Homo sapiens: one gene and its partners. The protein of the gene in region 7 interacts with the protein of the main gene of each other region in a biochemical or structural test. Each region holds a gene or a part of one and is shown on either strand. Other genes may lie near its edges.

Evidence for each region.
Region 1: the proteins of RNF11 (region 7) and UBE2N form a complex in vitro, tested with the Homo sapiens proteins (one study listed by BioGRID).
Region 2: the proteins of RNF11 (region 7) and STAM2 form a complex in vitro, tested with the Homo sapiens proteins (one study listed by BioGRID).
Region 3: the proteins of RNF11 (region 7) and ANKRD13A form a complex in vitro, tested with the Homo sapiens proteins (one study listed by BioGRID).
Region 4: the proteins of RNF11 (region 7) and YAP1 interact in a test that uses a peptide from one of them, tested with the Homo sapiens proteins (one large-scale study listed by BioGRID and IntAct).
Region 5: of the proteins of RNF11 (region 7) and AKT1, one has a biochemical effect on the other in vitro, tested with the Homo sapiens proteins (one study listed by BioGRID).
Region 6: the proteins of RNF11 (region 7) and NEDD4 form a complex in vitro, tested with the Homo sapiens proteins (3 studies listed by BioGRID and IntAct, with this or other methods).

Annotation. Positions count from the first base shown.
Region 1 is NC_000012.12:93,410,491-93,415,099, reverse strand, and holds part of UBE2N (ubiquitin-conjugating enzyme E2 N), read left to right. Parts: intron 1-3,800; coding exon 3,801-4,047; intron 4,048-4,225; coding exon 4,226-4,366; intron 4,367-4,609. UniProt on the Homo sapiens protein: The UBE2V1-UBE2N and UBE2V2-UBE2N heterodimers catalyze the synthesis of non-canonical 'Lys-63'-linked polyubiquitin chains. This type of polyubiquitination does not lead to protein degradation by the proteasome.
Region 2 is NC_000002.12:152,148,264-152,152,872, reverse strand, and holds part of STAM2 (signal transducing adapter molecule 2), read left to right. Parts: intron 1-2,643; coding exon 2,644-2,728; intron 2,729-4,572; coding exon 4,573-4,609.
Region 3 is NC_000012.12:110,026,310-110,030,918, forward strand, and holds part of ANKRD13A (ankyrin repeat domain-containing protein 13A), read left to right. Parts: intron 1-1,395; coding exon 1,396-1,457; intron 1,458-2,199; coding exon of another isoform or gene 2,200-2,202; coding exon 2,203-2,333; intron 2,334-3,168; coding exon 3,169-3,326; intron 3,327-4,335; coding exon 4,336-4,449; intron 4,450-4,609. UniProt on the Homo sapiens protein: Ubiquitin-binding protein that specifically recognizes and binds 'Lys-63'-linked ubiquitin. Does not bind 'Lys-48'-linked ubiquitin.
Region 4 is NC_000011.10:102,228,354-102,232,962, forward strand, and holds part of YAP1 (transcriptional coactivator YAP1), read left to right. Parts: intron 1-1,348; coding exon 1,349-1,587; 3' UTR 1,588-4,609. UniProt on the Homo sapiens protein: Transcriptional regulator with dual roles as a coactivator and corepressor. Critical downstream regulatory target in the Hippo signaling pathway, crucial for organ size control and tumor suppression by restricting proliferation and promoting apoptosis.
Region 5 is NC_000014.9:104,771,749-104,775,716, reverse strand, and holds part of AKT1 (RAC-alpha serine/threonine-protein kinase), read left to right. Parts: coding exon 1-65; intron 66-509; coding exon 510-641; intron 642-713; coding exon 714-779; intron 780-1,736; coding exon 1,737-1,805; intron 1,806-2,136; coding exon 2,137-2,262; intron 2,263-2,337; coding exon 2,338-2,466; intron 2,467-2,624; coding exon 2,625-2,839; intron 2,840-3,264; coding exon 3,265-3,352; intron 3,353-3,968. UniProt on the Homo sapiens protein: AKT1 is one of 3 closely related serine/threonine-protein kinases (AKT1, AKT2 and AKT3) called the AKT kinase, and which regulate many processes including metabolism, proliferation, cell survival, growth and angiogenesis.
Region 6 is NC_000015.10:55,836,163-55,840,771, forward strand, and holds part of NEDD4 (E3 ubiquitin-protein ligase NEDD4), read right to left. Parts: intron 4,566-4,609; coding exon 4,444-4,565; intron 4,356-4,443; coding exon 4,285-4,355; intron 2,443-4,284; coding exon 2,347-2,442; intron 2,019-2,346; coding exon 1,945-2,018; intron 1,688-1,944; coding exon 1,627-1,687; intron 1-1,626. UniProt on the Homo sapiens protein: E3 ubiquitin-protein ligase which accepts ubiquitin from an E2 ubiquitin-conjugating enzyme in the form of a thioester and then directly transfers the ubiquitin to targeted substrates. Specifically ubiquitinates 'Lys-63' in target proteins.
Region 7 is NC_000001.11:51,270,610-51,273,947, forward strand, and holds the end of RNF11 (RING finger protein 11), read left to right. Parts: intron 1-541; coding exon 542-713; 3' UTR 714-2,838; downstream 2,839-3,338. UniProt on the Homo sapiens protein: Essential component of a ubiquitin-editing protein complex, comprising also TNFAIP3, ITCH and TAX1BP1, that ensures the transient nature of inflammatory signaling pathways. Promotes the association of TNFAIP3 to RIPK1 after TNF stimulation.

The DNA of each region.
Region 1 (4,609 bases), on a different chromosome or scaffold from region 7:
TTTCCCCATACCTGAGTGGCTCCTTTTGTTTTCCTTCCATAATGTGCACATCCTGCCTTGAAAATAACCCTGCCTTAATGATGTTAACGATGAAATTCTGATCGTTTATTTCCCTCTTTTCATAACATCAAATAGATTCAGAATTCAGTAAATATTAATTGAATATCTATTGTGCCAGGCAGTGTTCCAAATGCTGAGGATATAGCAGTCCATAAAATAGACTCAAATCCATCCTCTCATGGAGCTTAAATTCTGAACAAAATAAGTAGAAATGAGATTTGTTAGTAGTGCTGTGGAGATAAAGCCAGGGAGTGGGGATAGGGAGTGTGCAGGGTAGGGTTGAATGGGGTTTGCAATTTCAGTTATGATGGCTTCACTGAGAAAACATGAAGATCTTAGGAGCTGAGGGAGCAAGCCATATGGATATCTTGGGGAGGAAGAGGAAGTACAAAGCCCTTGAGGTGAGCGGATGCCTGGCACGTTGAAGAACTACAAGGAAGCTAATTTTTGTCTGGAACAGAGAAGGTTAGGGGATGGAGAGAGAACAGCTGAAGATAAGTCAGAGAGGTAGGTGGAGTGAGGGCATCATATAGAGCGTCTTTTGGGGGCCCATTACAAGGACTATGACTTTTTTTTTTTTTTTTTTTTTTTGAGACGGAGCTTCGCTCTTTTGCCTAGGCTGGAGAGCAATGGCATGATCGGGGCTCACCGCAACCTCCACCTCCGGGGTTCAAGCGATTCTCCTGCCTCAGCCTCCCAAGTAGCTGGGATTACAGGCATGCGCCACCATGCCTAGCTAATTTTATATTTTTAGTAGAGGTGGGATTTCTCCATGTTGATCAGGCTGGTCTCGAACTCCTGACCTGAGCCGATCCACCCGCCTCGGCCTCCCAAAATGCTGGGATTACAGGTGTGAGCCACCATGCCCAGACTTTTTTTGAGATGGAGTCTCGCCCTGTCACCCAGGCTGGAGTGCAATGGCACGATCTCAGCTCACTGCAACCTCCGCCTCCTGGCTTCAAATGATTCTCCTGCCTCAGCCTCCCGAGTAGCTGGGATTACAGGCACGTGCCACCATGCCCGGCTGATTTTGTATTTTTAGTAGAGATGGGATTTCTCCATGTTGATCAGGCTGGTCTCGAACTCCTGACCTGAGGTGATCCACCCGCCTCGGCCTCCCAAAGTGCTGGGATTACAGGCGTGAGCCACCGCACCCGGCTCAGGACTATGACTTTTAAAGGGTCTGTGGATAATAGACCTGCGAGGGAGGTAGTGAGGTCAGAAGCAGGAAGAACAGGTTAGGAGGCTGTTGTAGTATGCCAGGTCAGAGCTGATGGTTGCTTGGATCAGAGGTGTAGCAGTGGAATGGTGAGAAACAGTCCAATCATGAGTAGAATTTGAAGTATAAAAAAAACCAATTTGCCAATCAGGCTAGATGTGTGTGGCATATGAAGGAAAAGGTGGATCATTTGGAAAGATGGGTTTGCCAGTAACTGATGTGGGGAAGACTTTATGGGAGGAGCAAAGGTTGGGGATAGGGAGGTCATGTTAAGTTTGGGATGCTTATTAGACATTCAAGAGTGTATATCAAGCAGGTAGTTATAGAGGCAAGAGGCACGATGAGGGGAGAGGTCTGGGCTAGATATGAATTAGGGGAGGCTTCAGCTTATAGAGTGTGTTTAGTATTTAAATTCATTGCATTACATGAGATCACTGTGGAAATGTATAAACAGAGAGGAAGCCCTAGAATAGAGCCCCAGTGCATTTCAGTGTTGCGATGTTGGGAGATAGAAGAAACCAACAAGGAAACTAAAGGAAGCTGCTGCCAGACAAGGAGGAAGAGAGCCATGAGAATGTTTATAGGAAGTTAGATAAAGCTTTGCAAAGAGGAAGGAGACCAGCTGGATAAGATGTCGCATTTAGGTAAGATAAAGATTAAGCACTGGACATTTGATTTAACCTTGTGGAAATCATTGGTGACCTTAACAAACAAGTTAGCGATAACTACAGCTTGATTGGAGGGTATGTTCAAGACAGAAGAGGAGGAGAGAAATTGGAGACAAGCAAAGTAGAGGTTCCTCTTCAAAGACTTTCCTCCCCATCTAATTAGGAATAAATAGTAACTTCTCTTAGAAGCAAAATTTATTCGAAGACCTGTGCAAACATTCTTAAATATTTGCTAGCCATAATAAAGAAATCAATATACTTTATGTTCTTAGCTCCCACAATTTAGCCTAAATATTTGCCCTGGCATGCTTATACTGGTCCAAGCAAGCATTAGGTCATAGCCTGTTCCTCTTCCTTATTTAAAAGTGTTTTTACCTTTCTCAGCATTCCACAAGTTACTTCCTCCTTCCTTTGTTCCCCTCTACCTTTACCTCTTTTAAAAAGTTCTAAGTTGCTAGCCAGTCAGGACAAATACAGAATGTGAGATCCCGTTCCAGCCAGTGGAAACCGGACACAGCAGTAGGGTGGACGCGTCAGGTTATAAATGACCCTGTCTCCTTTGTTCAGTATACTCTTGTGGCAAAACTCCTGGCGAGTGTACCCTTTCTGCAGGAAGTAAAAATGGCTTTACTAAATAAATTAAATTTATGTTCAAGTGCTATTTCTTTATGGTACCGAAGAACAAACATTTCAGAGATCAGTAAGATCTAGTGCTCAAGACCGATTGGCCCTAGCCAAGAGTACGTGACATTTCATCTATACAGGAGAAAAACCAGAGTGTATGGGTGCAGATGCAGGGAAATGTCCAAATGCTACAGTGGGAACTGATGGAAGTATCTAACTTGTCATGAAATAGGAAGCAGGACATCAGCCACAAGTGAGGATGGGGATGGAGATGCTGGAGGTTTGAAGAGAGAAGAGAAATAATAATAATACAATTATTTAGGGGAGAGGGAGAATGATGAAAAAGAGAACTAATGGTATGATTGTTGGGAGTATTAAGGGTTCCTCTGAAGTTAATTGTCAATTTTAGAGTAATCAGCATTGTTAAATATATTTCTTTAGTCCTGTTCAGGTACCTGGGCCTCTTCTTATCTCCTTTCTTTAGTCCGTTACATTTTTCAGAGGGGAGGTTTTCAGTGGGTTTAAAAACTAATTTTTGGCCGAGTGTGTTGGCCCATACCTGTAATCTCAGCACTTTGGGAAGCCAAGGCGAGCAAATCACTTGAGGCCAGGAGTTCAAGACCAGCCTGGCCAACAGGGTGATACCGTCTCTACTAAAAATACAAAAATTAGCTAGGTGTGGTGGCGCACACCTGTAATCCCAGCTACTCAGGAGGCCGAGTTGGGAGGATCACCTGGGCCCAGGGAGGTCGAGGCTGCAGTGAGCCAAGATCTTGCCACTGCACTCCAGCGTGAGTGACAAAGTGAGATCTTGTCTCAAAAACAAACAAACAAGCCAAAAAAAACCACCAAAAAAGCTAATTTTACTTTTTAAATAGCTTGGTTTTGGTTGAGTTTAGAGCAAGTTGCCTTACTTATGTAATCCTAATGTTACTTTATTTTACTTGAGTAAAAAATCAGTTTTATTAAGCTAATTTTATTAACATATTTGTAGACATTTGTAGCCAAAATGTATGATAACATCATTAGTATTCGCTTGCAGTTTCATTCAGCTGGTTGTAATTATTTAAATGGTATTTTTTTGAATTTTGCATTTTATAAGCTAAATCTGTTGGGAGATTGGAGCTGTTCTATTATGCGTAGTTCTAAGAGATGAACTTTCTAATTTTACTTTTGGTGTCTAGCAAAATGACATTTGTTTCACAAATGTGTTTGTTTTTCTGTCATAGGAAACCCAGCGTTTGCTGGCAGAACCAGTTCCTGGCATCAAAGCCGAACCAGATGAGAGCAACGCCCGTTATTTTCATGTGGTCATTGCTGGCCCTCAGGATTCCCCCTTTGAGGGAGGGACTTTTAAACTTGAACTATTCCTTCCAGAAGAATACCCAATGGCAGCCCCTAAAGTACGTTTCATGACCAAAATTTATCATCCTAATGTAGACAAGTTGGGAAGAATATGTTTAGATATTTTGAAAGGTAAGTGTTATCTTTATCAGCATATGCTATTATTAAGCTTTCTCCTTTTTCTCTTAAGCATTCCATGTTTAGAATGTAAACATTATACAAAGATCAGAGAGGTCTGTGGGAGGGAAGTGAAGCAGTTCTGGGCCTGTTTTTTTCATGCTTTATCATACTGGGCCTGTTGCCTTCATAGATAAGTGGTCCCCAGCACTGCAGATCCGCACAGTTCTGCTATCGATCCAGGCCTTGTTAAGTGCTCCCAATCCAGATGATCCATTAGCAAATGATGTAGCGGAGCAGTGGAAGACCAACGAAGCCCAAGCCATAGAAACAGGTATCTAATATTCATTCTCCTTCACACCACTTCCACTTTTACAAATTTGTATTACCACTTAAACTTTTCTAAAGCTCTTGGCAAGGAAAAGAAATAGAAAAAAGTATAATAAGTGAGATCCTGCTTATAGTATGTAAATACGTCTTAACAAAATGGCTTGCTATGGGACCCCCCAAATATAAAGACAACCTGTAATTGAAAGATCTTGGAGTCTCTTGTAACTACACCTGGTTTAACAAATAC
Region 2 (4,609 bases), on a different chromosome or scaffold from region 7:
TCATTCTCCTGCATTCTAATATTTTTACTACCTGTGTATATATCCCTAAAGAATATGGTGTATTTTTTGGATGTTGTGAAACTTCAGGTGAAACATTCACATATTGCTGGTGGGAATGTACCATAGTATAGTTCCTTTGGGAAACTGCCCATTCCTAAAAAAATTAAACTTAGAGTTACCATATGACACAGGATTTCTACTCCTAGATATACACCAAAGGACAATGAAGGCGTAATGTCCACACAGAGACTTGTATATGAATGTTCATCGCATCAGTGCATTATTTATATTAGCCAGAAAGTTTTTTTTTTGTTGTTTTTTTTTGAGACAGAGTCTCACTCTGTCACCCAGGCTAGAGTGCAGTGGCGCAATCTTGGCTCACTGCAAGCTCTGCCTCCCGGGTTCACGCCATTCTCCTGCCTCAGCCTTCCGAGTAGCTGGGACTACAGGCGCCTGCCACCACACCCGGGTAATTTTTTGTATTTTTAGTAGTGATGGGGTTTCACCGTGTTAGCCAGGATAGTCTTGATCTCCTGACCTCGTGATCTGCCCACCTCGGCCTCCCAAAGTGCTGGATTACAGGTGTGAGCCACCGCTCCTGGCCCAAAAACATTTTTAAAAATCCAAATGTTGACTGGGCATGATGGCTCAAACTAGTAATCTCAGCACTTTGGGAGGCCGAGGTGGGCAGATCATTTGAGCCCAGCAGTTTGAGACGAACCTGGGCAACATGGCAAAACCCCGTCTCCACAAAAAATACGAAACTTAGTTGGGCGTGATGGTGCACACCTGTAGTCCTAGCTACTCGGGAAGCTGAGGTGGGAGGATCACGTGAGCCCCGGGAGATAAAGGCTGCAGTGAGTTGTGATCACACCACTGCACACCAGCCTGGGCAACAGAGTGAGACCCTGTCTCAGTAAGCCAACCAACCAACCAACCAACCAACCCAGATGTTCATGAACTGGTGAATGAATAAATGTGGTATATCTATACAATGGAATATTATTTAGCCATAAGAAGAAATGAAGTACTGGTACATGCTACAACGTGGATGACCCTTGCAAACATTATGCCAAATAACAGAAGCCAGTCAGAAAAGAACATATATTGTGTGGTTCTATTTATATGAAAAATCCGGAATAGGTAAATCTTTGGAGACAGAAAGTAGACAAGTGGTTGCGTAGGGCTGGGAATATGTGGGGAGAATGAACAGTGACTGCCAATGGGTATGGATTTCTTTTGGAAGTGATTAAATGTTCTCAAATTAGATACTGGTGTTAGTTGTACAACTCTATGAATATAGTCAAAACATTGAATTGTACATTTTAAATGTGTAAATTGTATTGATACATGAATTATAGCGATAAAGCTGTCTTAAAAAACTCATGTAGCTGGGTGCGGTGGCTTATGTCTGTAATCAGTCCTAGCACTTTGGGAGGCTGAGGTGGGCGGATCACAAGGTCAGGAGTTTGAGACCAGCCTGACCAATATGGTGAAACCCCATCTCTACTAAAAATACAAGAATTAGCCGAGTGTGGTGGCAGGCGCCTGTAGTCTCAGCTACTCAGGCGGCTGAGGCAGGAGAATTGCTTGAACCTGGGAGGTGGAGGTTGCAGTGAGCTGAGATCGTGCCATTGCACTCCAGCCAGCCTGGGCAACAGAGCAAGACACTGTCGAAAAAAAAAAAAAAAAAAGAACTCATGTAAATATTATAAATTCTTCTGCTGTTAGCTTTTTTGACTCAGCGTTATAAGCCCAAGCAAATCATATTTTGAGATTCATAAATTTTTGTTCATTTAATTTTGTATTCCTCATTTCATATTTCGTTGTATGAATTTATTAATCAATTTTCCTTTTTGCTATTGAAAACAGTGCTTCAGGCTGGGTGCAGTGGCCTGTAATCCCAACATTTGGGAGCCAAGGAGGATTCCATGAGCCCAGGAGTTCAAGACCAGCCTGGGCAACATAGTGAGACCCCTTATCTATTAAAAAAATTTACAAAACCAATGCTTTATTGGACAGTGTAGTGCATATTTACTTGTATGATATACTTTCTAATTTTTTTAAGAGGTAGAGTCTCACCCTGTCATCCAGGCTGGAGTGCGGTAGCATGATAATAGCTCACTGCAGCCTTGAGGTCATAGGCTCAAGCAATCCTCCCATTTCAGCCTCCCAAGTAGCTAAGATTACAGGCATTTGCCACCATGCCTGGCTAATTTTTAAAATTTATTTTTCGTAGAAACAGGGTCTATCTATATTGCCCAGGCTGGTCTCGAACTCCTGGCCTCAAACGATCTTCCTGCCTTGGCCTCCCATGCCTGGGATTACAGGCATGAGCCACCATGCCCGGCCTGGATTATACATCTTTAAAACTTTCTTCCAAATTAGAATTTGATGGGATTATTGATACTTAGTAATTTGTTTATTTAGAAGGCATTTTATTGCTTTACCTCAAGATATTTAGTTCATTTAATTATACAATTTAAAATTGAAGTTAGTAGAAGTACTTTTGTCTTCTGAAGGTCGTCTGTAGTATCTTCGGCAATAGAAAAGGTAGGATTTCTTAACTGTTGGACCTTTACTGGTATTTTAGTGTTATATGAGATGTGTCCTCATTGTTGTGTATGCCAATATATTTTATAGAAAAAGCCACGAATGAGTACAACACTACAGAAGATTGGAGTCTTATTATGGACATATGTGACAAAGTTGGAAGTACTCCTAATGGGTAAGATGTCCAGTCATGCTCAGTGAATGTCTAGGAACTTGATAACCAGTGTCTCTTTTTGTGATGTAACTTTGAGAGGAAAATGAGACTTTATCACAGTTGACCCTTGAACAACACAGATTTAAACTGCGAGGGTTCACTTATACATAGGTTTTCTTCCACCTCTGCTACCTCTAAGACAGCAAGACCAACCCCTCTTCCTCCAACTCATGATTTCCTTAACAACATTTTTTTTTCTCTAGCTTACCTTATTGTAAGAATACAGTATATTATGTATATACAAAATATATGTCCATCTACTGTTTATGGTATTGGTGAGGCTTCTGGTCAAGAGTAGGCTGTTAGTTGGCTGGGCGCAGTGGCTCACGCCTATAATCCCAGAACTTTGAGAGGCCGAGGCGAGCAGATCACTTGAGGTCAGGAGTTCGAAACCAGCCTGGCCAACATGGTGAAACCCCATCTCTACTAGAAATACAAAACTTAGCTGGACATAATGGTGTGCGCCTGTAATCCCAGCTACTTGAGATGCTGAGACAGGAAAATCGCTTGAACCCAGGAGGCAGAGCTTGCAGTGAGCCGAGATGGCACCACTGCACTCCAGCCTGGACGGTAGAGCGAGACTCTGTCTCAAAAAAAAAAAAAAAAAAAGAGTAGACTATTAATAGTGAAGTTTTTGGGGAATCAAAAGTTATACACAGATTTTCGGCTGCGTGGGGTGTTGGTGTCCTTAACTTTCATGTAGTTAAAGGGTCAGTTGTTTTACTTTTGGGACATAAAAGTTAAAAAAGCCTGAATGCTGGATTTATGGGATTAATTTACATGAAAAAGAGTTCAACTGAAAATCTGCTATAGTAACACACATAATTAAAGCCTTGACACAATAGGATACATGATAACAATGTATAGGTGAGTTATTTAAGGAATTCCTCTGGGACTTCTATATGTATGGGAACTTTTAAATAATGAAGTAGATAACACAGTAGATAATATAACAAAAAAGTCTTCAAATAATATACATATAAATATAATAGATTAACAATGAAAAAAGTGAATATAAAAAAGTGCTTTTGGGGAGATGTGGCAATTAGCTGAACTATATGTTAGAAATTTAGAAGAGTGATGAAAGCATTTGTTTTAACATTAAAGCTTTTCATAGTACATTCACATGTTTATACTTGAACCTCTTAAAATTGTATATCATGTTAGATTTTTTTCAAGATAAGCTTTTGCTGTTTGAAAGCTAAACCTGTCTTGAAGAAATAGAAAGATCTGGTATACGTCTCTTGTGTTGACAGATCTTTTGTGAAATGGTTTGTCTCTTAATTTTGGAATACACAACATTTGCAACATGCTTTTTTTTTTTAAAGTTCTATGAGCCTATAAACAAAATATTGTGTAAAATCATTTTATAGATTTATTCCTTTAACAATATGAAATTTCCAGGATTTTAGTTTAGTTTATTTTTATTTTATACTTTCTTTATTTTGAGACACGGTCTCTGTCATCCAGGCTGGAGTATAGTGGCATGACACAGCTCACAGCAGCTTCCTGGGCTCAAGCAGTCCTCTTGCCTCAGCCTCCTGAGTAGCTAGGAGTACAGACACATGCCACCATGCCCAGCTAATTTTTAAGTTTTTTATAGAGATGAGATCTTACTTTGTTTTCCAGGCTGGTCTCAAATTCATGGGCTCAAGTGATCCTCCCGCCTTGGCTTCCCGAAGTGTTGGAATTACAGGCATGAGCCATTAAATATAAAATTATTTGGTAATAGAATAATACCTTAATGTTTGAATTAAATTTATCAGTAAATACTTAACTGTCTCTCTCTCTCTTTTTTTTTTTAGAGCGAAAGATTGCCTAAAAGCCATAATGAAAAGGGTA
Region 3 (4,609 bases), on a different chromosome or scaffold from region 7:
ATGCTTGTAATCCCAACACTTTGGGAGGCCAATGTGGGCGAGTCACCTGAGGTCGGGAATTCAAGACCAGCCTGACCAACATGGAGAAACCCCATCTGTGCTAAAAAAAAATACAAAATTAGCTGGGTGTGGTGGCCCATGGCTGTAATCCCAGCTACTCAGGAGGCTGAGGCAGGAGAATCACTTGAACCTGGCAGGCGGAGGTTTTGGTGAGCTGAGATCGTGCCATTGCACTCCAGCCTGGACAACAAGAGTGAAACTCCATCTCAAAAAAAAAAAAAAAATTTCCTGGCTGAGCACGGTGGCTCACACCTGTAATCCCAACACTTTGGGAGGCCAAGGTGGGCAGATCACTTGAGGCCAGGAGTTTGAGACCAGCCTGGCCAATATGGTGAAACCCTATCTTTACTAAAAATACAAAAATTAACCAGGCGTGGTGGCGCACTCCTGTAGTCTCAGCTACTGGGGAGGCTGAGGCAGGAGAATCGCTTGAACCCCAGAGGTGGAGGTTGCTGTGAGCCAAGATTGTCCCACTGCACTCCAGCCTGGGTGACAGAGCTAGACTCTGTCTCAAAAAAAAGAAAAAGGAAAGAAAATTTCCTTAGTCTGACTCATTCTTGGAGGTGTTTCCCCATAGTTGGCCTCAGCTGTAATTAAAGCTATTCGTGAGGGCTTGTTTATGTGTTATCAAGAACAATTGTTGAATTCAGCCAAAAAAGGAGATAAGGACATTTGAGAATATTTATCATTGGAATGAGTGATTTAGTCCAAACTATTGTGATGAAAGATTTAGACAGAACTTGGGGTCCAAGCAAAAACATTGCATGTGGTTGCCACATCCCAGCCCCATCCCAGCCCCACCAGTTCTATGGCCTTGTGAAATTACTTCTGCTCTGTGCCTTAGTTCCTCAGCAGTGAAATGCAGGTGATACCCAACCTTCCTTAGAGTTATTGAGAGGATTAGATGAGTTACGACGTGGAAGCCTTTAGAATGGCGCCTGCAGTATGTGGTAAGCATGCAGTAATTGTTCACCAGCACCACCACCACCATTGCCATTACTCCACTTTGACAGATGAGGGAACTGAGGCCCAGAACACATGGGTAGCGAGTGGCCAAGGTGGGGTTGGAATCCAGGTCTGGCTCACTCCAAAATCCAGACTCTTCCCATTATTCTGCTTTAATTCTTACAACTGTTTATCTAGTTTAGAGATCCTCATGAAAAGCACCCTATAAAGGATAAATTAGTTTATGGTTATTGTGAATGATTTGATCAGCCAGTCTGTAATTGCATTTCCTAATGAGGTAGCTTGGACCAGAAACTTTAATGAAGATCTTTTTTTTATAGCCACAAGTGAGATATAATATTAGACTTTAAACTCCCTACCCCTCTGTAGCAGACAGGAACCCGCTGGAATCTTTGCTGGGAACTGTGGAACACCAATTTGGTGCACAAGGGGTAAGTTGAAGCAATGAGCTTTCATTGCAGTTAGATGAAAGGAAACAACTTGTCTGTGTCTGGGATGGCATTTACTGGATCCTGAACAGCCCACTCTATGTAAAGGCCAAAGATACCCCCAAGCTGGAATTTGAGATACTCTTTTGGAAGAGAATTAGATGAGTGACTCTTTGAAAATAAATAAGGATTTTAGAGGAGGGGTAGTGATTATAGAAATCAGGTGCTTTCCCTCTTATCCATTATAAACGAGGGGCCTCTTTATAGAAATGGAACTTAAAAAGGATTCAGGACTTTATATTGCAACAGAGCACCTTAACAAATATTTTCTTACTTGATGCTCACAGTAACTATATGAACTTGGTACAGTGGATGTCCCTGCGGGTCAGAAAAATGAAATTACCTTTCCACTATCAAAGCTAGACAGGGAAACAGCTAGAACTTCAACTCCAAGTCTTCCAAGTCTCATGCACTTTCAGATATTTCTTTCTTTTTTTCTTTGTTATAATCAGGAGATAAAAATGTAAAGGAGAGTAGAGAAATATTTTAAAATGAAGAAATCCATTACACTTCCTGTGTAGTTTGGTGATATCCTCATAGATTTTCTTGTTCCATGCAAAAAAGTTAGTGAATAGAACTTCCCGGTCTTTAGCTGGTTAACACGTCCACCTCAGACACTGAGTGCCACAGGCCTTCACTTGTGAACATCATTTGGCATTTCTGACTCTCCTGAGTTCTGGCTCAGCAGGACCTCACCACGGAATGTGCTACTGCAAACAACCCCACAGCCATCACGCCTGATGAGTACTTCAATGAAGAGTTTGATCTGAAAGACAGGGACATTGGAAGGCCGAAAGAGCTGACGATTAGAACACAGAAGTAAGAGAGGTTCAGCTGCCATTTTCAACCTATGTATGTTTCAGAAATTGTGCTGTTTTATGGTGTTATGTTGGATCATTCCACTGCCCTCCCCACCACCCTTATTTTTTTTTCAGACGGAGTCTCGCTCTGTCGCCTAGGCTGGAGTGCAGTGGCACGAACTCGGCTCACTGCAACCTCTGCCTCCCAGGTTCAAGCGGTTCTCCTGCCTCAGCCTCCTGAGTAGCTGGGACTACAGGCGCGTGCCACCACGCCCAGCTAATTTTTGTATTTTTAGTAGAGATAGGGTTTCACCATATTGGTCAGGCTGGTCTCGAACTCCTGACCTTGTGATCCGCCCGCCTGGGCCTCCCAAACTGCTGGGATTACAGGCATGAGCCACTGCGCCCAGCCTCCTCTGCCCCTTTTTATAAAAAATAATTTTAAAATTACTTTGCCATGAAAGCTAACAGTAGATTGTCCATGTTATTAGCTCCTTTCCAAATAGAATCTAGATTGGATGTAAGAATTCCTTTTTTTTTTTATTGCTAACCAGCTTCAGCTGATCAAATTCAAATGAAACTGTTCCACCCGCTATCATTTCTTCATGCTTGCTGTCAATTAAGGCTTTGATCGTGGCAGGTTGTCATGCAGGTCGCTTGCCTTTATTGCCAGATTTTAGGGTGATGTGAATTCCTTGTGGCCCTAGACATTTGACCTTTAATAGGTCTGAATTAAGAGATGACTGGGCAGAGTGTGGAGTAAAGCTGCTGTTGTCTAGCCTACTGCATAGCAATAATCTCCTTTTCCCATCTGGTGGAGATGACCTCAGTCTTTTCTTGGTTGAATTCTGCAGGTTTAAAGCAATGTTGTGGATGTGTGAAGAGTTTCCCCTCTCTCTGGTGGAGCAGGTCATTCCCATCATTGACCTAATGGCTCGAACGAGTGCTCATTTTGCAAGACTGAGAGATTTCATCAAATTGGAATTCCCACCTGGATTTCCTGTCAAAATAGGTACTGCTAAATAAACTTCAGCAACACTTGGAGGTTCTGCCCATGTTTGTGGGTGGCAGCATGTGGGTGGCAGGATGCTTCAGGGAATTGGAGTGCTTTAGGTCAAAGTAGCTTATAGACATAACAGAGGAGGTCAGAGTTCTCCTGTGGTTTGATTTAAAGAAGTGTTATGATTAGTGGTTCATTTTGTGTATCAAAGTCAAGAGATCTCCAACCATCATTTCTATTTGCAAATGGTGCTGACAGATATAAAAAGGCATAAAAACATGACACAGTCATTGTTTTAATGTCAAACCTTAATTCAGTGAGACTTCAAATTAGATAATTATTTGAGGAAGACAGTTGACACCAAGATCCTTTGATATGTAAATATGATCTACGTCCCAAGCTAGTATGCATAATGCTATATATGTATATATCATACATACTACTCATGAAGAGTATTAATTTTGGATAGTTGTATGTTCATGATACTTGAACCCTGGCTTGATCACTTACTCACTGTGATCTAGGAGAAAATACATAACTCATTTTCTCTTTTTTTTTTTTGAGATGGAGTCTCGCTCTGTTGCCCAGGCTGGAATGAAGTGGCATGATCTTGGCTCACTGCAACCTCTGCCTCCTGGGTTCAAGCGATTTTCCTGCCTCAGCCTCCTAAGTAGCTGGGATTATAGGCATGCATCACCACGCCCAGCTAATTTTTGTATTTTTAGTAGAGATGGGGTTTTATCATGTTGGTTAGGCTGGTCTCGAACTCCTGACCTCAGGTGATCAGCTCGCCTTGGCCTCCCAAAGTGCTGGGATTACAGGTGTAAGCCACCGCGCCTGACCGAAAATACACAACTCTCAATCTCAGTTTTCCCGTCTGTGTATTGGGAAGGGTTGTTATGAGGCTTAAATAAAATTATACTTATCAAAGTACTTGGCATAGTAAGCACTTAGTAAATGATAACTATTATTGTTATTCTCAGTAAAGTTTACTTATAAAAGTTTTTATTTTGTTTGTTAGAAATTCCCTTGTTTCATGTCTTAAATGCACGGATTACATTTGGAAATGTTAATGGCTGTAGCACTGCCGAAGAATCTGTATCTCAAAATGTGGAAGGGACCCAGGCTGATTCAGGTAAAAAAATAAATAAATACAAAGTTTAGTTTTGTTATTTAAAAAAAAATTTATGGCCGGACGTGGTGGCTTATGCCTGTAATCCCAGCACTTTGGGAGGCCGAGGTGGGTGGATCACCTGAGGTCGGGAGTTTGAGACCAGCCTGACCAACATGGAGAA
Region 4 (4,609 bases), on a different chromosome or scaffold from region 7:
GCCAGGTGCGGTGGCTTAAACCTGTAATCCCAGCACTTTGGGAGGCCGAGGTAGCCAGATCACGTGAGGTCATAAGTTCAAGACCAGCCTGGCCAACATGGTGAAACCCTGTCTCTACTAAAAATATAAAAATTAGCCACATGTGGTGGTATGCACCTGTAATCCCAGCTACTCGGGAGACTGAGGCAGGAGAATCATTTGAACCCGGGAGGCGGAGGTTGCAGTGAGCCAAGATCACACCACTGCACTCCAGCCTGGGTGACAGAGCAAGACTCCGTCTCAAAAAAAAAAAAAAAAAAAAAAAAAAAGAATAGTTGCAGGGGTCTTGCAGGAGCTAAGAAATACCTGCCTCACAGGGGTAATTACGGAAGCATTTCTCCTGTGGCTTACCTGGCAACCATTGCCCTAGAGTTGACAACTGCCAGAGTGCATGAATTGGCAGGGAAATGAAGCTGTTCTTTAGCTACCAACTCTTTCACTAACTGCTTCTATTCTGAAAGTGTTTAGCAAGGCTTTTGTGCCTGTATTCATCCAGCTCCTGGCTTTGATGCTTTCTAGAATCCACACTACCCCTCCTCTCTGATTATCTAGATGTTAAATCATCCTTAGGAGCCACTTCAAACCCATTTCACACACAACACCTTTACTTACTCCTCTAATCTGTATTGCTCTCTTCTCCAGACCCCTGTAGCACTTAATGGTTTATGTTAGTTTTTCTGAAAGTATGTTCTATTGAAGCTCTGAGGAGTGTTAATGTTGTCATATGCAAAAAAGGCTCTGTGGCCAAGTAAGTTTGGGAAACCTAGAAGCAAGGCTAGGAAGATGGATTTATTCAAAGCCCTCTGGGAAGGCTTGTTTTGCTGTTAGGAAGGTGCATCTCCTAAGGGTAGAATAAAGTATTCTTGCAGTCTTTCTATTTTAGTGTTTCCCAAAGTATATTTAAGGCCAAGGTAGGTCTATACCACTCATGTTTATGTTTAGTCTTATTATGGTGGTGCTTATCTGGAAGACAGGGTAGTGATGCTGTCGTGTTGTGTACTTGTTCTTTCTCCCGCTGCTGCATATAATTTTTCAAGGGCTTTTTTATTTTTTTCATGACTCCTTTAGTGCTCAGCACATAATAGCAATCAAGCTGTTATTGGATATCTGAACAATGTTGAAGCAAAAGTAAACTTGGCATTGTTATTTTGTTATCTGTGAGTTGTTTGACCTGATATAAATTCTAGGTATCAGTTTAGGTCAGTCAGGAGCGCTTTTCTTTCCCTGTGCATTTCTCTGTGCTCATATGATACAGCCCTGATGTTAGCTTTTCAAAAAGGACTTTGTTATCTCTGTGTGTTTCCACTAGGTGATACTATCAACCAAAGCACCCTGCCCTCACAGCAGAACCGTTTCCCAGACTACCTTGAAGCCATTCCTGGGACAAATGTGGACCTTGGAACACTGGAAGGAGATGGAATGAACATAGAAGGAGAGGAGCTGATGCCAAGTCTGCAGGAAGCTTTGAGTTCTGACATCCTTAATGACATGGAGTCTGTTTTGGCTGCCACCAAGCTAGATAAAGAAAGCTTTCTTACATGGTTATAGAGCCCTCAGGCAGACTGAATTCTAAATCTGTGAAGGATCTAAGGAGACACATGCACCGGAAATTTCCATAAGCCAGTTGCAGTTTTCAGGCTAATACAGAAAAAGATGAACAAACGTCCAGCAAGATACTTTAATCCTCTATTTTGCTCTTCCTTGTCCATTGCTGCTGTTAATGTATTGCTGACCTCTTTCACAGTTGGCTCTAAAGAATCAAAAGAAAAAAACTTTTTATTTCTTTTGCTATTAAAACTACTGTTCATTTTGGGGGCTGGGGGAAGTGAGCCTGTTTGGATGATGGATGCCATTCCTTTTGCCCAGTTAAATGTTCACCAATCATTTTAACTAAATACTCAGACTTAGAAGTCAGATGCTTCATGTCACAGCATTTAGTTTGTTCAACAGTTGTTTCTTCAGCTTCCTTTGTCCAGTGGAAAAACATGATTTACTGGTCTGACAAGCCAAAAATGTTATATCTGATATTAAATACTTAATGCTGATTTGAAGAGATAGCTGAAACCAAGGCTGAAGACTGTTTTACTTTCAGTATTTTCTTTTCCTCCTAGTGCTATCATTAGTCACATAATGACCTTGATTTTATTTTAGGAGCTTATAAGGCATGAGACAATTTCCATATAAATATATTAATTATTGCCACATACTCTAATATAGATTTTGGTGGATAATTTTGTGGGTGTGCATTTTGTTCTGTTTTGTTGGGTTTTTTGTTTTTTTTGTTTTTGGCAGGGTCGGTGGGGGGGTTGGTTGGTTGGTTGGTTTTGTCGGAACCTAGGCAAATGACCATATTAGTGAATCTGTTAATAGTTGTAGCTTGGGATGGTTATTGTAGTTGTTTTGGTAAAATCTTCATTTCCTGGTTTTTTTTACCACCTTATTTAAATCTCGATTATCTGCTCTCTCTTTTATATACATACACACACCCAAACATAACATTTATAATAGTGTGGTAGTGGAATGTATCCTTTTTTAGGTTTCCCTGCTTTCCAGTTAATTTTTAAAATGGTAGCGCTTTGTATGCATTTAGAATACATGACTAGTAGTTTATATTTCACTGGTAGTTTAAATCTGGTTGGGGCAGTCTGCAGATGTTTGAAGTAGTTTAGTGTTCTAGAAAGAGCTATTACTGTGGATAGTGCCTAGGGGAGTGCTCCACGCCCTCTGGGCATACGGTAGATATTATCTGATGAATTGGAAAGGAGCAAACCAGAAATGGCTTTATTTTCTCCCTTGGACTAATTTTTAAGTCTCGATTGGAATTCAGTGAGTAGGTTCATAATGTGCATGACAGAAATAAGCTTTATAGTGGTTTACCTTCATTTAGCTTTGGAAGTTTTCTTTGCCTTAGTTTTGGAAGTAAATTCTAGTTTGTAGTTCTCATTTGTAATGAACACATTAACGACTAGATTAAAATATTGCCTTCAAGATTGTTCTTACTTACAAGACTTGCTCCTACTTCTATGCTGAAAATTGACCCTGGATAGAATACTATAAGGTTTTGAGTTAGCTGGAAAAGTGATCAGATTAATAAATGTATATTGGTAGTTGAATTTAGCAAAGAAATAGAGATAATCATGATTATACCTTTATTTTTACAGGAAGAGATGATGTAACTAGAGTATGTGTCTACAGGAGTAATAATGGTTTCCAAAGAGTATTTTTTAAAGGAACAAAACGAGCATGAATTAACTCTTCAATATAAGCTATGAAGTAATAGTTGGTTGTGAATTAAAGTGGCACCAGCTAGCACCTCTGTGTTTTAAGGGTCTTTCAATGTTTCTAGAATAAGCCCTTATTTTCAAGGGTTCATAACAGGCATAAAATCTCTTCTCCTGGCAAAAGCTGCTATGAAAAGCCTCAGCTTGGGAAGATAGATTTTTTTCCCCCCAATTACAAAATCTAAGTATTTTGGCCCTTCAATTTGGAGGAGGGCAAAAGTTGGAAGTAAGAAGTTTTATTTTAAGTACTTTCAGTGCTCAAAAAAATGCAATCACTGTGTTGTATATAATAGTTCATAGGTTGATCACTCATAATAATTGACTCTAAGGCTTTTATTAAGAAAACAGCAGAAAGATTAAATCTTGAATTAAGTCTGGGGGGAAATGGCCACTGCAGATGGAGTTTTAGAGTAGTAATGAAATTCTACCTAGAATGCAAAATTGGGTATATGAATTACATAGCATGTTGTTGGGATTTTTTTTAATGTGCAGAAGATCAAAGCTACTTGGAAGGAGTGCCTATAATTTGCCAGTAGCCACAGATTAAGATTATATCTTATATATCAGCAGATTAGCTTTAGCTTAGGGGGAGGGTGGGAAAGTTTGGGGGGGGGGTTGTGAAGATTTAGGGGGACCTTGATAGAGAACTTTATAAACTTCTTTCTCTTTAATAAAGACTTGTCTTACACCGTGCTGCCATTAAAGGCAGCTGTTCTAGAGTTTCAGTCACCTAAGTACACCCACAAAACAATATGAATATGGAGATCTTCCTTTACCCCTCAACTTTAATTTGCCCAGTTATACCTCAGTGTTGTAGCAGTACTGTGATACCTGGCACAGTGCTTTGATCTTACGATGCCCTCTGTACTGACCTGAAGGAGACCTAAGAGTCCTTTCCCTTTTTGAGTTTGAATCATAGCCTTGATGTGGTCTCTTGTTTTATGTCCTTGTTCCTAATGTAAAAGTGCTTAACTGCTTCTTGGTTGTATTGGGTAGCATTGGGATAAGATTTTAACTGGGTATTCTTGAATTGCTTTTACAATAAACCAATTTTATAATCTTTAAATTTATCAACTTTTTACATTTGTGTTATTTTCAGTCAGGGCTTCTTAGATCTACTTATGGTTGATGGAGCACATTGATTTGGAGTTTCAGATCTTCCAAAGCACTATTTGTTGTAATAACTTTTCTAAATGTAGTGCCTTTAAAGGAAAAATGAACACAGGGAAGTGACTTTGCTACAAATAATGTTGCTGTGTTAAGTATTCATATTAAATACATGCCTTCTA
Region 5 (3,968 bases), on a different chromosome or scaffold from region 7:
CACCCAGTGACAACTCAGGGGCTGAAGAGATGGAGGTGTCCCTGGCCAAGCCCAAGCACCGCGTGGTGAGGCCTGTCCCCACTTCTGCCTGTGCCTGGGGCTGCCTTGGACTGTGGAGGGCTGGGTGGGTCATGGGGTCCCAGCTCGGCCCAGGAGACACTCAGCACTCCACGGCATCTCCACCTAGGCCGGTTTTCCATGTAGGGCGCAGCTGCTTCCCAGGTGGGTCCTCTTCCCCATGTCAGAGGAAAACTGGGGTTGCTGAGCCCTGCCAGGCTTGGGCAATGTTACCCCACCCTTCCCTGAACCCCATGCTCTGAGCTGGGGCCGCAGCCATGTGTTCCCTGTAAGCCTGGACTCCCCGCTGAGCCCAGTAGGCCACCAGGTGTGAAGTGGACGCCTCTCCTGGCTCTGCCTCCGACTCTGGGGCCCCTCATGCCACCCCACGCATGCCGACCAGCTGGGCACTGTTGGCAGCGCCGCTTGCTGACCCTGGTGCCTGCCCATAGACCATGAACGAGTTTGAGTACCTGAAGCTGCTGGGCAAGGGCACTTTCGGCAAGGTGATCCTGGTGAAGGAGAAGGCCACAGGCCGCTACTACGCCATGAAGATCCTCAAGAAGGAAGTCATCGTGGCCAAGGTGGGGCCGGGGCGGTGGGGCAGGGTGGAGATGAGGGTGCGGGGTGGCAGCTCACCCAGCCCTGCTTTACAGGACGAGGTGGCCCACACACTCACCGAGAACCGCGTCCTGCAGAACTCCAGGCACCCCTTCCTCACAGTGAGTGGGAGCCCAGATGGGGCTGAAGGGCTGGGGCCAGGTAGCGACTCCTGGGGCTGTCTCTAGGGGACGATGTCCTGTCTTCTTGGGCACGTGAGGGCTTTACACACCGTGGACTCCGCCGCTGGTGAGACAGGCCTGCCCTGGAGGGTCAGGCTGTGGAGGTGCCCAGTGTGGGCTAGGGGCTGTGCTCGCTGCTCCCGTGTGCGGGCAGGTGGGTGGGGCAGGTGGCCCTGGTCTTCCTTGCACTCTGCCGAGGCTCCAGGAGGCCCCAGCTCCCCATGCCCTGCAGCCCTGCCTGCCAGGCTTTTGTTGAGGCCCGGGCTCTGTCCTGCAGAACCTGTTCTGGGGACTTGGCCCAGGAGGTATTTACTGTGAAGGGGGCCAGGGTCCAGCCACTTGGTTAGTTCCAGGTCACTGTGTTTGGGGACGATTCTCCTGCAGATGGGGCCTTTGCTTTAAAAGCACAGTCGCCTGTGGTGGAAGGCGGGAGGGTGGGTCTCGCCTGGGAGGGTGTGTCCTCCCTTTGCGAAGGCCCTGGTGCTGGGAGCACTGTCCCCTGCTGAGGTCCCAACTCACCCTGGAGGACCTGAGCCCAGGCCACCTTGCTCACCTTTCAAACACTCCTTGGCACCTCAGGGGCTGCCGGGGCCCAGCCTGATGGTGGCGTGGCATGAGGCAGTGTGGTGTGGGGCAGTGTGGTGTGGGGCAGCGTGGCATGGGGGCAGTGTGATGTGGGGGTGTATGGTGTGGGGCAGTGTGATGGGGTGTGTGGTGTGGGGCAGTGTGGTATCGGGCGGTGTGGTATCAGGCAGCGTGGTGTCGGGCAGTGTGGTGTGGGGCTACGGGCGGTGTGGTATCAGGCGACGTGGTATCAAGCAGCGTGGTGTCGGGCAGCGTGGTGCGGGGCTGCCGTCCTGCCTGTGGGGCCGCAGTTCCAGCTCCCCTTCCTTGCAGGCCCTGAAGTACTCTTTCCAGACCCACGACCGCCTCTGCTTTGTCATGGAGTACGCCAACGGGGGCGAGGTAGGGGCTGGGGCTGCGGGGGATGGACTTCGCGGCCTGTGGGCCGCCCATGGTGGGGCCGGTCCTTCCCGGAGCCTCGGCTACTCTCCATGGCACCAGACGGTGCTCCCTGCTGGGTGGGTGGTGTGATGCCTGCCCAGGCAGCTGCCTGCTGTGGGGTGACTTGTTCCTGCTGAGTTAGGGCTTCTGAGACTTTCCAGGCCCCCGTGCCCTCTGGTGGCTGGTCCCTTCCCTGTGCAATGCCGAGACCCGGTCTGAGAAACCCCAGCCCTGCAGGCCATGGGGGCAGAGGCCCGAGCCACGGCTGTGCCTCAGGTTGCGCCTCCCGCAGCTGTTCTTCCACCTGTCCCGGGAGCGTGTGTTCTCCGAGGACCGGGCCCGCTTCTATGGCGCTGAGATTGTGTCAGCCCTGGACTACCTGCACTCGGAGAAGAACGTGGTGTACCGGGACCTCAAGGTGCGCTGGCGGGCAGGCAGGGGGGCAGGGCCCTGGGGGCCTGGCGGCACTGACCTGAGGCCACCTTTCCCCTAGCTGGAGAACCTCATGCTGGACAAGGACGGGCACATTAAGATCACAGACTTCGGGCTGTGCAAGGAGGGGATCAAGGACGGTGCCACCATGAAGACCTTTTGCGGCACACCTGAGTACCTGGCCCCCGAGGTGTGCGCCCCACCTGCGTGCATACGCGTTGCTGCGTCCCCACGTCCTGAGCACACGCAATGCTGTGTCCTCTCTGTGCCCCAAGCACGTCACACCTCCCCCGGCAGTGTCCCGGACACCCCTTGATGCCGAGTCCTGCCCATCTGCCACCCGTGCAGGTGCTGGAGGACAATGACTACGGCCGTGCAGTGGACTGGTGGGGGCTGGGCGTGGTCATGTACGAGATGATGTGCGGTCGCCTGCCCTTCTACAACCAGGACCATGAGAAGCTTTTTGAGCTCATCCTCATGGAGGAGATCCGCTTCCCGCGCACGCTTGGTCCCGAGGCCAAGTCCTTGCTTTCAGGGCTGCTCAAGAAGGACCCCAAGCAGAGGTGAGGGCCGCCCATCCCAGCTACAGGCTACACCTCCATCCCCTCATCCCCAGGCTGCACCTGCCCCTGCGCCAGGCGGTCCTGGCACCTCCCAGACTACACTGATAGCCAAAGCTTGATGTCCTTGGCCAGGGCTGATCTCCAAAGCCTCAGGCCCAAGCAGAGTGGCGGGCAGGCCGGGGTCAGTTGGGCCTCTGTCCCCAACCCTGCAGCCTGCACCCACCCACTCAGGAAGCCCCTGCCCTGCCGTGAGCTCTGTGGTGCTTTGCTACCCACAGCTGCTCAGGGACGCTGCACCACCGGCTCCCCTCCCTGGCCCCGGAACGTCCTGTCTGGCGGGCCCTACATCACAGGAGGAAGGGGCCTGAACCCAGGGCCTGGGCAGGTGGCGGTACCGACACTGTGGCCTTGTTTCCTGCCTGCAGGCTTGGCGGGGGCTCCGAGGACGCCAAGGAGATCATGCAGCATCGCTTCTTTGCCGGTATCGTGTGGCAGCACGTGTACGAGAAGAAGGTGCGGCTGCTCCCCGCATATTCACGCGCACGCATGCTCCCCACATATCCACACTCACGCATGCACGTGGCACGCTCGCCAGATTTCCCACACACTCGCCCTCACCTCAGGAGCCTGCTGCAGTCCTGGTACAAGGAGGGCCTTGCTGCACCAACCTCAGCGCCTGGTGCTCAGAGGCTCTGGCACTGCCGGGTTCCACCAGGAAACTGGCCTGGTCCTCATTTCCTCCTCCCCTCGGAGGTGTGTCACACTCTGAGTTTCCTCCTCCCCTCGGAGGTGTGTCACACTCTGAGTGCCAGCCTTGGGGTTCCCTTCCCTGACGCTGTGCAGTGAAGGCTGGCTGGTGGTGGACCAGGGGTGCTGCCCCTTGGCCTCCACGAGTTCCTCCTGTTTGACCTCAATCCCTTCTGCCGCAAGGAGAGCCCAGCCCTATTTCTGGCTGTGCAGGGACAGGGACAGCACCTACTTTTCTGGCACATGGGGGAGTCCGCCCTGGAGGGAGGCAGCTCTTTCTGCATGAGTCGCCATCCTGGGTGCTCATCTTTCAGGGACCCTAGGAGCCCTGGCCATCACCCCAGCTGATGGGGTCTGCCAGCTGGGTTCGGAAGCCTGCACT
Region 6 (4,609 bases), on a different chromosome or scaffold from region 7:
CCCCTCCCTGGTTTGTACTTCTCTTCTGTGCTCACCTAGCACTTTATGCTTGCCTCTGTTCATTTCACTCTTTACATCATACATACCTTAATAACAGGACCTATGTCTTTTGGCCTGGTACAGCACCATACACATAGTACTCAATACTGAATTTATGAAAAAGTATGTGACACACACACACACACACACACACACACACACACACACACACTTTAGAGACAAAGTTTCACTCTGTAGCCCAGACTGGAGTGCAGTAGTGCCATCATAGCTCATAGCTGACTGTAGCCTCGACTTCCCAGGCTCAAGTGATCCTCCAGCCTCAGCCTCCCAAGTAGCTGTGACCATATGCACATGCCATGACACCAGGCTAATTTTTTTTTTGAGACGGAGTCTCGCTCTGTTGCCCAGGATGGAGTGCAGTGGCGTAATCTTGGCTCACTGCAACCTCTGCCTCTCAGGTTCAAGCAATTCCCCTGCCTCAGCCTCCCGAGTAGCTGGGACTGCACGTGCACGCCACCACGTCCGGCTAATTTTTTTGTATTTTTAGTAGAGACAGGGTTTCACCACATTAGCCAGACTAGTCTCAAACTCCTGACCTCAGGCAATCTGCCCACCTCGGACTCCCAAAGTGCTGGGATCACAGGAATGAGCCACCGCGCCCAAATTTTTAATTTTTTATAGAGATAAGGTCTCCCTATGTTGTCCACGTTGGTCTCGAACTCCTGGGCTCAAGCAATCCTCCCGCCTCAGCCTCCTCAAGTGTTGGGATTTTAGGCGTCAGCCACCATGCCCAGCCAGATACATATTTAACAGAAGATTGTAAGTTAGCTTAAGAAATGAGTGCTCTGACAATCTGTCTACCAATTGGAAAAATTTAAGTAACTTTTTAATTTATATTCTGAATAAAATATAGCCACAAAGAAAGGCAGCTATATGTCGTCACATGTAAATATCCCTAATAAATATCTGATAAAAGAAGAAAGTAGGCCGAGCACGGTGGCTCACACTGGTAACCCCAGCACTTTGGGAGGCCAAGGTGGATGGATCACTTGAGGTCTGGAGTTTGAGACCAGCCCGACCAACATGGTGAAACCATGTCTCTACTAAAAATACAAAAATTAGCCAGGCGTGGTGGCGGGCACCTGTAATCCCAGCTACTCAGGAGGCTGAGGCAGGAGAATTGCTTGAACCTGGGAGGTGCAGGTTGCAGTGAGCCGAGATCACGCCACTGCATTCCAGCCTGGGCGACAAAGTGACTCACTCCGCGCTCAAAAAAAAAAAAAAAAGAAGAAAGTAAGTCACAAAACAAAATGTGTAAGGTGATCCTATTTAGAAAAACAAACAATATGTTATACTATCCCTAAAGCACTCTTGTTCTTTTGCTGTCCTAAAGTGAAGAGAATGGAATAGGGAAAAGGCTTGGGGGAAAGGGGACCTGTCCATGTTTATTGTCTAGACTTCTTGAATGACTGAATGGAATATTTAGTTAATATAAAAATATAATTTAGAATGATTTCACAAAACAAGCCATATACTTATTTTTCTCAGATGTGATGAGGCCTAATATTTGAAACTTATAGGTTATACTGTGACATTATGGAAGAGCAAATAAAAGAAAATGAATACCTCTTTAAAAGCAGCCATTTGCTTCTGGATTCGGTTTACAAATCGCCATTGTATTACAAGACTAAAAAGAAACAACATTTCATTTTCATGTGAACCAAGACAAAATTCTGAGGCACAATTATTCTAGTTAGAAACAAAAACTAAAGGCTAGCTGAGACCAAGGTAAAAGCTGAATATGAGTGCTTGCTACTGCATTGTGATAGAGAAAAAGAACACTGAGATTCTGGACAAGGGGACAGAGAAAGATGGTAAGAAGAGTCTTTCTGGAATAAAGTACAAAATTATATCCAATAAAATACATACTAATAAAATACTTACTAAATATATTCCTTTTTGTTCTTATTGGTGACAACTATTTCTGATCCACCATTTTTCAGCTCATGTTGATGTGTCTAAAATTAAACACAATAACTTGATATGTTATTTTAGCGAGAAAAATTTAAAAAGTATACATATTGTAGTTATACGAGAAACTTGGTGTTTTAAATTAAGTCCAGTCAAAAGTTAAAAACTAAGAAAACTTAAAATACTAGTTTTACTAAAATAAATATGGAACGAGTCAAATGTTAAAGAAAGTACAAATTCTTGCTCAGAGACAGCTTTTGTTACTGGGAAATGAATGTAAAAACAGAGCCTAGGAATGTATTAAGTGTACGTATTAACATCTAAACATTTGTCTCACAATTTATGTGCCATTTTAACTGATCAAAATTCACAAACCTGTCCAAAAAGTTCTTCATCTATGATAAACCTGAGGTCCAATTCTGTTGGGTCATTTTCAAGAATCCATCTTAGGGAATTGTAATATTCACTATCCTAGATGGGAAAAATTACATATTTAAAATTTGTATCTATAACACACCTGAAATTGCAAAAAACAGTATGTAGAGGGTCTGAATAATTGGGTAAAAGATGAGAGGTCAGATGGACATCCTTTACTTACACACATATATAAACAAAAATGTATGTGTGTATGTGTGTGTATTACAAAAAGAGATGGATGACAGGTAAGGGCAAGAGTAAAAATGCATCAATCAATTAATCAATTGGTGCCTACTTAAAAGTTTAGAATCTATGTTTATGTGGAAGCAGTGGAGGTACAGATTTTATCATCCAGTTAAAGGAATGAATACAGAAGTTTTCAGATAAAACCTAACTTCTCTGGATATCCAGGAGCACTTAGCACATTCCTCATATGCCTATGTGACTTCGTGTTAAATGTTTTATTTTTATTTTTTAATTTAATTTTTTTTTTTTTGAGACAGGGTCTCGCTCTGTCCCTTAGGTTGGAGTGCAGTGGGGCGACTGTGGCTCACTGCAGCCTCGACCTCCTTGACTCAAGTGATCCTCCTACCTCAGCCTCCCAAGTAGCTGGGACTACAGGCGCGCACCACCACGCCTGGCTAATTTTTGTATTTTTTGTAGAGACAGAGTATCACCATGTTGGCCAGGCTGGTCTCAAACTCCTGACCTCAAGTGATCCACCTGCCTCAGCTTCCCAAAGTGCTGGGATTACAGTTGCACACCCCTGTGTCCGGCACTAAGTGTGAAATGTTTAAGTAGCTATGAGGAGGCCATTGTTTATACCCAGCCCGAGTTAAAGAAAAATCTCTTAATAAATATAGAGGCTCAATGAACCAACTCAAGTAACTGTGCAATCTTATGATTTATAAAGAATCACACTGTTTGTGCTGTTAATATGTAATAAGAAAAGAATAAAAAATGAACTTGGTACTAAGGAAGATGCCCTGGAATTCATGTGAACACACATTGTGTGAGGCTATTCAGCAGCACAGGAAACAACACGGCTACAGTCCGGGGTTTAATCCTTGGGCTTCTGTTTTTTTCTAGGAACCTAACCATAACGCTTTGCCTTTCGACTGCCATTTAAAAAATATACACCATTTGGCCAGGTGCGGTGGCTCATGCCTGTAATCCCAGCACTTTGGGACGCTGAGGCAGGCGGATAACGAGGTCAAAAGACTGAGACCATCCTGGTGAACACGGTGAAACCCCGTCTCTACTAAATATACAAAAATTAGCTGAGTGTGGTGGTGCGCGCCTGTAGTCCCAGCTACACAGGAGGCTGAGGCAGAGAATTGCTTGAACTTGGAAAGCAGAGGTTGCAGTGAGCCAAGATCACGCCACTGCACTCCAGCTTGGCAACAGAGTGACACTCTGTCTCAAAAAAAAAAAAAAAAAAAAAAAAAAATATATATATATATATATATATATATATATATATATATATATAACATTCATCATAAAAGATCATAATGCAAATACTGATTCAAAAGACATATAACTTGGTATAACCTATTGAAGTATTTAGTGGGATGTTTAATGTTATCTATAACTTACTCTGAAATGCATGAAGAAACTAAGACAGACTGATGGATAGACAGATAGGTATGTGATAAAGTAAATCTAGAAAAAAAGCAATTGTGAGTAGTTGATATACAACTGTCCAATGTAAAATTCTTCCAACTTTATTATATGTTAGAAAATTTTCATAATAAAATGTTGAGGAAAAAGTTCATTTGTATTTTGAAACATGATAATATATTAATTTCCATGTCATTAAAAGCAAATTCTTCAAAATGTTCAAGCTGCTTGTTAAATTATACTTCGTCTATACTATAAGTGAAAAAGACATACCACAGATTCCATATCATGAAGGGTTATTGGTTTGTGAAGCATCATCTTGTAAAATGGGCGGATGAAAAAACCTTGCAAAAAACCAAATACATTTAGGATGATTACCAAGTGAAAGAAAACAGGTAATTATATTGTAAAAAGTTTATACTTAATACTAACCATCCAACAGTTTGCCATGATAAACTGCCATTCCAGCTACCCGACCAATAAACTTGAAGTAAGAGAGGTGATCTTCGTTACACAATCCAGAGTTTGGATTTATCTGTAGGGTATAATTGTCCCTGTAAAGACAACCCCATTTAAATACTTCATTTGAAAAACTTTA
Region 7 (3,338 bases):
ACCCAGTAAGTAGGCTGAAGTTAGTGTTTCTGTTTTTACAGTTATTAAAATGAAAATTATCTTACTCTAGGATTACTCTAAATAGCACAAGGAAACAAAGTTGCCCGAAGTTAGTGTTTCTGTTTTACAGTTACTAAAATGAAAATTGTCTTAGTCCAGGATTACACTAAATAGTGCAAGAAAACAAAGTTGATCTAACTGATGCTTTTCTACCTAAAATAATCCCATTCTCCTTCAGGTATCTGCTATAATATGTAGCTGTTTACAAGCACAGCAGTAGATTTGATGCATATGTAATCCATTTCTCTTTGCTCTGTTGATTGCTCCTAAGTCCTGCAAATTCTCAGGGGATTGAAATAAGAGACTGTGGACAGATCAACATTAGGAAAAAATTCAGTTTGCATGCTTTGGCAATAAGATGACAGGCAAAGCATTCTGATGTGTTACTCAGATTAACACTGTCTTTAATGGGATTTAAAGAGTTTTCTGAATAGGACACTTCTGAAAATGCCTTCTGATTTCTCTCCATTGCTCTCAACAGGTGTGTGATCTGTATGATGGACTTTGTTTATGGGGACCCAATTCGATTTCTGCCGTGCATGCACATCTATCACCTGGACTGTATAGATGACTGGTTGATGAGATCCTTCACGTGCCCCTCCTGCATGGAGCCAGTTGATGCAGCACTGCTTTCATCCTATGAGACTAATTGAGCCAGGGTCTCTTATCTGACTTCAAGTGAACCACCATTTTGGTGGTTTTGATCTTTTGTCACTGAGCCCAAAGAGCCAGGGATTAGGAATTAAGATCGTGCACAAAAGTTTCCTTAAAATTCCTGGATGGCTGCAGATGTTGGGGGAAAAAGTACGTGATATTTTAGAAACTTAGTGGGAAAAGTAGGATGGTATTTTTATGTAAAGCCTTGACCCAATGTTTAAAAATATAATTGTATTTAGATCTTGTTATTGCTCCAGTACATAGGAATTGTGTAAAGTGTTAACAGCAGCTGTATTTGTTTAAATTGTGTGTATTGAAGATTAGGAAAAAGATAGTAGTTATTTTTCCTAAATGAAATAACTTTCTTCTCTTCCCCTTCCCCACCCGAATTCTTTTCTGAAGTTGCTGGCATTTGGGTCAAGGTTTTATTAAAAGCTACATTTTATAACACTGGCACACACAAAAAAGTAGTTTTAAGCTTGTTTGCACAGTTCTTTTTTTCCATTGGAAATGGAATTCATTGCCTTAGGTCTTTTTAAATAGTGTATTATTATCGTTGGGGCTGGCTCTATGCTTGAAAACCAGTTTATTTATAACCTGTTATAAGTGCTATATTCTGTTTGCAGTTAGGAAATGCAGAATTCAAAGTGATCTCCTAGCTTGTAAGCAAACTGAGATGCACTATCCCTTTTCTATAAAAAATAAGTTAATGTGTCAAGAAACCAACTCTATTAAGGTGGGGTTTAATATTACCCTTTCCTATGTGTTTTATCTAATTATTTTGGTTGTTAATATGGTGATAATGGAAAGTCAAGTTAAATTTTAAATATTAAGAATTCTGATTTATTGAGATTGAATTATGCCACCACGTTTATGTAAAAATGAAGGTGGCACCGTGGTGAGACCTAATGAGAAATAGTTACTCAGTTGTAAAAATTTTGATTTATTCTCTTTCTTCTGACCTCCTTGCCTCTTGTCTTGAACCATAGCAAAAGGATACTGCATCTCTCATTACTGTAGTGCTGAGGTTATTGAAGTTATACAAAACACATCTCAGTCTCTGTTTCTTGGAAAGGTATCTATTACATCCTGCTAGCTGACTGACAAAACTAAGCAGGGAGAATAAAGATAATTGTATTTTATGTTTTGCACACAAACGCAGAATTTGTATAACCATATGACTTCATAGTTGTGATCTCAAAAAAGAAGGAATTTCTCCTTTGTTTCTTGCAGTTAATGTAAGAATACTTTAAATCTCTAAGCTTCTGAAGTGTTAGAGGTAGAGATGGTCTAGTAAAGATGTAGTAGTAATGTTTTATCCATTTAGCATGTGTTTATTTTTTCATATGTACTCAAAGGTGACTTATTGGTTCACCTCAGTGATATTACAGCTAAAAAAATCATTCATTAGCAAAAGGAAAAGTGGTCTCAACCTAACATCAGAAGTGTTTCTTATTATTATTTTATATTGAGTTGAATATTGAACTCTAACAGTTTTCTACATACAAAACACAGTGTCATGAAGGTTATTCATAATTGCATTATAGAGGAATGTAGTATGTCATAAGTACTTTGTAAAGATTTGACATTCAACTGTAGTATCCATATGTTGCTTAAATTTCCTTATGAGCCCCATGATGGAAAGACTTAAAGATGAATTTGAGAAAAATTGAAAGAAATTAGATTATCAGGTTCTGTTAAATTGTTACATGTATCTTGCTTAAATTTCTGTTTATTAATTTATATCCACCCAAGTACATAAAGCAAATTTGGAGGAAACAACTGAAGTTGTGCAATATTTTCTGATAATTGCTTTTTTTATTCTTGTGTTTTCTACTTAAACATAATGTCTGTGTCATCAAGTATTATAGTCAGACTTTTCTTTTTTTCTAGATTGTTAAAATTGGCAAATGAACTTTTTTAAAAATCATCTTCCATGTTGCAGTTAGTCTTTCTTTTCATTACAAGTCTTTCACAGAAGTTTGGTGGTAATATTGAAAGAACTAGCATTGGGCAGAATGTGTCTTTTTTAGGCACTTTATATTCTCAACATACAATGTTAAGAACCATCAATTTTGACTTTTACTAAGTTGTTAAATAAAGTTATAATACAGCTGTGAAGGGCTAAAGTTAGAGTTGATTACATAAGTAAGTATTCCCCATATAATCTTTTAAAAAGTTGTGTATGATTATTTTAAAATCTCTCTCTCTATATATACCTGTGGGAAGTATTTTTTATTGTTTGGCATTTAATATCATTTAATCATATACTTAGGCTTGATAGCACCAAAGTTTCTAAAACCAAACAATAGCTATAATCTCTTGATTTAGATATGGGCAAGATATGTCCAAGCTTGGCTGTGGGATTTGAAATTTCTAAAAAGCCTAACCAGGAAGAAACAAAAGAATCTTATCCTTTTGAGTGTAAAACCTAACAAGTTGAAATACTTTCAGATATTTGTAGTTTACCTAACACAAACTTAAAAAATTCTGTGAGTTTCTTGATAGGGAATCTCCTCAGTCGGTACTAGAAGACTCGCCCCCTGCTATTGGTGTTTATCATGTGATATAAAACAGTATGATTTCATGCAATAGTAAGCATTGAGATAACAGATCCCCTG